Linked DNA regions of Homo sapiens: region 2 is linked to region 1. Evidence: fine-mapped expression QTL. Tissue or cell type: blood mononuclear cells. Region 1 holds a variant in brackets; the other region holds the start of a gene. All regions are shown on one strand. Distances are between the middles of the regions.

Region 1 (4,163 bases):
CTCTAATCATTTTTGATTTCCAAGAACTCTTGTTTCTCTGAATATTGCCTTTTTCAAAAATAAGCTCTTATTCCTGTTTTACAGTTAAAATATCTTACATTTAAAGATAATGATTTTCAAAGACATTTTCTTCTCCCATCATTGGGTCCGTTTTCTCTAGTTTTCTGTTTGATGATTTTGGTATTTCTTTCTTGTGAGAAGCTTTCCTCAGTTACAGCTAGTAATCCCTCATTGCCTATCCAGGCAGTGGGAAGACTAACGTCCTTTTTGGACGTTCTGGGTAAGTGGGGCTTCAGTCTTCAACACAGTTCTCCGGCCCCAACACAGTTCTCCCGCCCCAGGCATCTTCCGTCCAGAGCAACTTTGTTTTGCTCTCCTGAAAAGAAAAAAAAAAAAAAAAAAAGCCTCAAGTCTTTTGCCACATTGAGAAAGGGCAAATCCCCCAGTTCCCTTGAGTTGGGAAAAGGATGGGAAGAGGATCTGGGCACCTAAGGTCAGGGTAAACTGACCTTAAACCAGTCTTTATTTTATTTTATTTAATTTATTTATTTATTTATTTATTTATTTATTTATTTATTTATTTATTTTGAGACGGAGTCTCTCTCTGTCACTCAGGCTGGAGTGCAGTGGCACGATCTCGGCTCACTGCAAGCTCTGCCTCCCGGGTTCATACCATTCTCCTGCCTCAGCCTCCCGAGTAGCTGGGAATACAGGCGCCCGCCACCATGCCCGGCTAATTTTTTGTATTTTTTGTTTGTTTGTTTTTTTAGATGGAGTCTCACTCTGTTACCAAGCTGGAGTGCAGTGGTACAATCTCGGCTCACTGCAAGCTCCGCCTCCCGAGTTCAAGCGATTCTCCTGCCTCAGTCTCCCGAGTAGCTGGGACTACAGGCGCCTGCCACCACGCCCGGATAATTTTTGTGTTTTTAGTAGAGACAGGGTTTCACCATGTTGGCCAGGGTGGTCTCGATCTCTTGACCTCGTGATCCGCCCACCTCGGCCTCCCAAAGTGCTGGGATTACAGGCGTGAGCCACCGCGCCCGGCCCAGTCTTTCTTATTTTATTCGTCCTAACTTCCACTTCGAGATAAAATTGATGGGACCAATTCTTGAAACTTTAGGTGATTGAGGAGTGAATTGGTCTAGCGTTTGGTCCCTCCCTGGGTGTGACCTCTTGACAACATTATATAGGAGGCTTGGAACATACTACTTGCATGCCACTTCAAAGCCTACATTAAGGATTTTAAAACCATCTTTTTTATTTTTATTTTTTATTTTATTTTATTTTTTTTGGGGACGAAGTCTTACTCAGTCGCCCAGGCTGGAGTGCAGTGGCACGATCTCGGCTCACTGCAAGCTCCACCTCCTGGGTTTAGGCCATTCTCCTGCCTCAGCCTCCCGAGTAGCTGGGACTACAGTCGCCTGCCACCACGTCCAGCTAATTTTTTGTATTTTTAGTAGAGACGGGGTTTCACCGTGTTAGCCAGGATGGTCTCGATCTCCTGACCTCCAATGTAGGTAGGGGTAGGTCTCCTTAATTTAGCCTACCCTGAAGTGACCTGGGACCCAGTGAGTGTGCCTGAGTTGCTCACACCAGAGTGCTCTTTTGTACTGCAGGCTAAATCAGTGCCAGTAAGACCAGTCTTACTGAACTGGATTAATTCACACCTCAATTAATTTTCAGTGTGGTCAAACCGGGATGCATTTGACTCCCCTCTTGGTAAACTCTATTTGAAGATGAGTGTTATCATGTAATATAAAATATTTAAAAAGTCAAATAATTACCCTCAAAAAATATTTCAAGTCATGTATTCTCTTATACATAGATGATGTGTTTTTAATCACAATCAATAAAAGGTTTTAATAGATGTCAGTATCCAATAGCTGATAGAAAAGAAAGCTAGAAATTGGTGTTTTTATTATTTTTGAAAGCCGTCCCCTAGATTTTTTAAAGCAAACTTTTTTGAA[A/G]TTTATACAGAAACTGTTTTCTATATACATCTTTATACTAAAAGTACATAGATCATAAATGTCCAACTCAGTGAATTTTTACTGTTTAAATATATCTGTGTAGTCAGCACTCACATCAAGAAATAGAACGTTACCAGCACCCCTTGTAACCACCCAGTCCCCTCGCAGTTTCTTTTGTCGTAAAGGTAACAACTACTCTGGCAATAGATTTGTTTTGCCTGTTTTTAAACTTTAAATCATACAGTATGTACTCTTTTGTGTCTGGCTTCTTGCTTTCAACAGTATGTCTGAGATTCATCCTTGTTGTCACTTGGAACAATAGTTGGTTCATTCTCATTGCTATATAATGTTTCGCCATATAAACCTGTCATTATTTGTACATTTTACTGTTGCTAGACATTTGGTTTATTTCTAGCTTAGAGCTATTACGAATAGTACCATTATGAACATTTCTTCTGCAACTTTTAGAAAACATAGGTACACATTTTCCTTGATTAAATAGCTAGGAGTGCTATGATTATGCATATGCAAACTCTAACAGACAGAGCCAAATAGTTTTCCGAAGTGGTTATACTAATTTATACTCCTACCGGCGAAATGCAAGGTTTCCATATCAACTCTTATACACGTAGTATTATCGTTACAAAAGGTTTTCTACCATTCTAGAGGATGTATGGTTATAACTGAAGTTGATCTTCTTACTTTTAGAATTTCAATACCCTCTTTTTTAAAGTATCTATACATCTTTGCCCCACTTTTATTTTGTTGTCTGATCTTTTGTTATTGGCTTATAGGGCTGTATATTTGAAATGCAGAATCTTGTCATATATATGCAAATATTGTTTCCCACTCTGGATAATGATGTCATCTGATAAATAGAAATTCTGAATTTTGAGATACCTGAATTCATCAGAGGTCTTTTTTTTTTCTTTTTCTGCCTATGGTTAACGCTTGTTGTGTTCTATTTAGGACATCTTAAGCACATGAAGATCTGTGTTTTCCTATAGTAGCTGTAGTATTTTGTCTTAAATACTTGAGTCTACAGTCCATATGGAAGATTGATTGCTCATTATTTTCTATAGGGGTATCCAGTTGACCCAGGATCACTTGCTAGAAAGACTGCCTTTTCCCCCATTGTACTGCACTGTCACCTTTGTCATATATGAGGTGACTGCATGTACGTGGGTCTCATTCCGGGTTCCATAATCTGTTCCATTGGTCTGTTTGCATACAGATTTGTTTCTGGACTCTATTCTCTTTCATTCTTTCTGTCTAATCTTGTGCCAACACAACATTGCTTTAGATTACTCGAGCATTATAATAAGCCTTACACTTGCTGACGTAAATTCTCCAGTTTTGTCCTCTTCTTTTAGAATTTTAGAATTGGCTATTCAATTTTCACAAAATTCCTGCTGGAATTTTGATAAGAATTGGGCTGAAAGTGTAGACTAATGGGGGACAATTGAGAATTTGAGGTCAAATGTGTTTATTGGGTTGTTGAGATCATTTCCTTTTTTTTTTGAGACGGAGTCTCGCTCTGTTGCCCAGGCTGGAGTGCAGTGGCACAATCTCAGCTCACTGCAAGCTCCACCTCCTGGGTTCACGCCATTCTGCTGCCTCATCCTCCTGAGTAGCTGGGACTACAGGCGCCCACCACCACGCCTGGCTAATTTTTTGTATTTTTAGTAGAGACGGGGTTTCACCGTGTTAGCCAGGATGGTCTCGATCTCCTGACCTCGTGATCCACCCGCCTCGGCCTCCCAAAGTGCTGGGATTACAGGCATGAGCCACCGTGCCCGGCCCCTTTTTTTCTTTTCTTTTCTTTTTTTCTTTCTTTTCTTTTCTTTTCTTTTTTTTGTTTTTTGAGACAAGTTCTTGCTCTGTTGCCCAGGCTGGAGTGCAGTGGTGTGATCATTGTTCATGGCAACCTTGAACTCCTGGGCTTATGGCGATCCTCCCACCTCAGCCTCCTGAGTAGCTGGGACTACAGGAACACATCACCATGCCTGGCTGATTTTTAAAATTTTTTGTAGAGACGAGGTTTCACCATATTGCCCAGTCAGGTCTTGGACTCCTAGACTCAAGCGGTCCTCCTGCCTTGGCCTCCCAAAGCACTGGGATTACAAGCATGAGCCACTGTGTCCAGCCCATTCCTTTTCTTTTTTTTTTTTTGAAACGTAGTTTCGCTCTTGTTGC
Region 2 (4,163 bases), 62 kb before region 1:
GTGATCCCCTGACTTCGGCCTCCCAGGGTGCTGGGATTACAGGCATGAGCCACTGTACCCAGCCTGGCCTTTACCTTTCTTACAGCTCTCTGGGATTTGGCATTATTTCAGGTTTGCCAAGAAAATAACATCCGTTTCCAAGATTTAAAATGTTGCTGGTGTGTCCTTACTTGTTTTTCCTGACCTTGTGAATTAACAAGTTTTCAAACAATCTGTTACATTTGCTTTTAGTGGTACAGAGGAGGCAAAATACATTTTTCTTGCGCGTCCTATGTTGGTGGCTGAGACCCCTAAGACAAAAGACAAATTAACAAGAGCAAAACATACAAGTTTCTTTAATACAAGTTTTACATGACACAGCAGCCTACATAAGGAAATGAAGTCCCAAAGAAACAGTTAAAGTTGTGTATTTTTATGCTAAATTTGATGAAGTCACAGAGAAATATAAATGGACAAAGAGGATATGATCTAATAGTAATACACTGGGGGCAACTTAGCAAGGCCTGTTTGTTCAAGAGTTTTCTCTGTGACTGTGTGTCTTCAGCAATAAAGATGTTACTTTCCTCCAGGTATAGGGAGTGCAAATCTCACATGAGAATCTTACGACCTGCTTCAGGGGACGTTAGGAAATTCTTCCTAGGTTTTACAACCTGCTTCGTGGGAGATGTGTGGAAAAGTCCTTCCTGTTTCTGCTGTTTTCTCAAATGATGAGGTGCCATATTTTGGCAGTGAGTGTGTGTGTCCTGAACTATATCAGTACGTGTTAGGAGGGAACAAAATTAGATGTGTTGTACCCAATCTGCCTTCTTTTCTTCTTTACTGTATGCTTTGAAGGCTGCAAAATTTCCTCTAAATATTCCCTTTACCTAAATCTTTTCTAAAAAGTTTCTAGTCTTTTAAAAAATGTTTAGCTTAATTACATTGTCAAAGAATATGGTCTTGTGTGATACCAATTGCTTGAAATGTGTTGAGGCTACTTTACAGACTAGTATGAGATCATTTCTTAAGTAAATATATGCTTTTCCATGTGTTTTCTTCAGTTTTGGGGTGGAGTAGTCTACATGTCTATTCATTAACATAAAACTAATTTTGCTTTTCAAATATTTCATATCTATAGTGACCTTTTTGTCAGCTTTTCTATTAGTTACTGAGAAGGTAGGTTAAAAACTCTGAGGCCAGGGTGGTGGCTGACGCCTATAATCCCAGCATTTTGGGAGGCCAAGGCAGGAGCGTTGCTTGAGCCCAGAAGTTTGAGACCAGCTTGGGCAACAGAGTAAGATCCCATCTGTACAAAAAAGAAAGAAAACAAAATTAAAAATGGGTTCTGCCCATGTTTGCTTTATGTATTTTGTATCTTATGTTATTAAATACATAAAAGTTTAAAATATTTTATTTGCTGGTAAATTAATGCCTTTTTTTTTTTTTTAAGACACTCTCTTGCTCTTGTCACCCAGGCTGGAGTGAGGTGGCGCAATATCGGCTCACTGCAACCTCTGCCTCTCAGGTTCAAGTGATTTTCTTGTCTCAGCCTCCCGAGTAGCTGGGACTACAGGTGCCCGCCACCACGCCTGGCTAATTTTTTTTGTATTTTTAGTAGAGACAGGGTTTCACCATGTTAGCCAGGCTGGTCTTGAATTCCTGACCTCAGGTGATTCACCCACCCGCCTCCCAAAGTGCTGAGATTGCAGGCCTGGCCAGAGAGACGACTTTAGCCGGGGTAAGGGGCCGCCTGGGAACCCCGCGTCCCGCCTGGACACACCGATGACCTGCAGAGGCCACACCGTGGGCCACCTCAGCTGGCCACTGGCACAGCCTTGCCCTCTGGGGCCCCGTTCTCGCACACGCCGACGGCCTGGCCGCACTGCAGCCCCGCAGCCTTGTGGGAAATGTAGTCTGGCGCTCCGGGCTGTAAGCGCCGGTCGCGGCTGTGTCGGTCGCCGCTGCTCCCGCTCCTGCTGGGAGAGGGTGAGTGCGGGGCCGGTGGCGGGGGCGCGCGCCATCCGTGAGTCTTGTAGGCCCCCGCAGGAGGAGCTCCGGATTGCGGGGCGAGGCCCCAGCTTCCTGAGGGTTGAGGGGCGGGCCCGCAGCAGATGGGCCGGGGGTGCGGCCTCACTGCGCCTGTGGAGCGCCGGGCCTCCGGCTCCAGGTGCGCTCCCTCTTCCCCAGGAGCTGGCGGCGGGAGCACGCTGGCAGCTGAGTGTCCTTCGGCGCTGTCCTGGGCAGGCGCCGAGGTGGAATCACAGCCCCGGAGCAGCGGGGATGGGGGCTCGAACAAGGGCCACGCCGGCCACCACGGGTCAGGGAGGGGCCCAAGGTTCCAAGAGTCGCTCGGACCCGGGTTCCTCCCTGGCTTTCCCCAGCCGCGCGCAGCTTTGTCCCGGGACACGCTGCGACCGTGGAGCGAACCTAACCCGCGGACATCCCGGGGATTCTGGGCCAGAGGCTGGGTCTCCCTGTGCAGCATCTGCCCTTTGTGTAAACCGGGTCTCCGGACCCGCCCTCTGGATCTCATTCCGAGAGCGCTGGCGTGGGCTCCCCTCCCATCTCACAATAAGAATGGGGAGGCCAACCTGGTGCAGGTTTCGACCTCGGGGAATCTTTTCTTTTTTTCCTTAAGCGATTTCACTGTAGCACAACTGGAAAATTGAGATTAAAACAATCATTCAAAATCTATCTCCATCTGCATGGCAGCGTGGATATGTGTATAAGCATAGAAACACTTTGTACTTTGTTTTTAAACAGAAATATGAATATTAGCAGCTTTTTCTCCATCTATCTTTTAAAACTGAGTCATGAGATGCATTTGGTAAGGGGTTTGAAGTGCACAAATCTTAAGCCTTGTAATTTTTTACTGGCCTAAACACCCAATGAAGATAGAGAATACATCTGAAAAAAACATTGGAATATGTTGACACCATCTACTTATACCAGATTTTAAATAGAGCTACGTCATTTTAATGAGTGTGAGGGAAAGTATGGATGTGTCGTATTGAATCCTCTCCTTAGGTTTTTGTGTTAGGGTTTTCTTTTTTCTTTTTTTTTTTCAGTATTATAAACAGTATAGGCCATCTGGCTACATACATCTTTGCATTTTGTCTTATTCTATAAATCTCTTAAAGTGAAATTTCTAGGTCCAGGGTACAGTAAGGATTTTGATACCTCCTGTCTTATTCCCTCCAGAAAAGTTGCAGTTTATATAAACACTTGCAGTGTAAGAGTGCCAGATTTACCCACACCAACTGTGAATGTTAGTATTCTCTTGAACTTCTGAGAGGTGCAAAAGATAGGATTGTTTACATTTGCATTTTGAACACTAATGAATATTTTCACGCAGTTTGCATTTTGTATTTTAATTTTGTATCTGATACATAAGCATGTTTCCTGACTGTGCAGAAACGTCACAGGTTCTTATGGTCACACATGAAAACCTTTTCTTCACGTTTGGGTGTTTGACATCACTGGCAGAGAAGCTGTCTGTCCCACGAGATTACAAAAATGTTTGTAGTTTCTCTTAGTACTTTCATTTTTTGTGTACATTTTTATTTTTTTCCAAATGGTAAGCCTTTGTTACAAGTTACTTAGTAATTTTTTCTTCGTTGATATGAAATGTCACTTATTTCATATCTTGAATGAAATATATATATACACACACATACATAAATACATGTGTATTTGAACCATTTAGGTTGGTAGAATTTTAATTTGTTCCATTGATGCTTTTCCCTGTTCGGCTATAACATCCATGATTGCGGAGAGTTTATCTGTTTTATTTACAGCTGTATCCACCCCTACCCCATGCAATGGTGCCTAGTATACAGTAGGTGGTCAACAATGTATCTGGTAAATAAGTCAGTAATATTGTGTTCCAATTCTTGTAGCTTTATGAATACTGGTGGGCAAGTTGTCTCTCATCAGTATTCTTTTTTAAAAAAGTCTTAGTTGTTGTAACACACAACTTAAATATTTTTTCCATAATTAGTGAACTTCTTTTTTTTTATTGAGACGGAGTCTTGCTCTGTCACCGAGGCTAGAGTGCAGTGGTGTGATCTCGACACTGCAACCTCTACCTCCCCGGTTCAAGTGATTCTCCTGCCTCAGACTCCTGAGTGGCTGGGATTACAGGCGCCCACCACCACTCTCTAATTTTTGTATTTTTGGTAGAG

The links. PIP is the estimated chance that this variant, and not a neighbour inherited with it, causes the effect.
Region 2: it holds the start of ZFP2, and the variant in region 1 is fine-mapped to the expression of ZFP2 in blood mononuclear cells (TOPMed, PIP 0.95).

Annotation. Positions count from the first base shown.
Region 1 is chr5:178,956,136-178,960,298 of GRCh38, forward strand. The region is part of intron 4 of ZNF454 (zinc finger protein 454); the gene reads left to right. Among named protein-coding and RNA genes, the nearest start is that of ZNF454, 17 kb to the left of the region's middle. The variant A/G (reference allele first, on the strand shown) is at 1,968.
Region 2 is chr5:178,894,010-178,898,172 of GRCh38, forward strand. ZFP2 (ZFP2 zinc finger protein) reads left to right here and starts at 1,904. Exons shown (of 5, transcript NM_030613.4): 1 at 1,904-1,965. RefSeq lists an enhancer at 1,617-1,806 and silencers at 1,917-2,026, 2,097-2,146.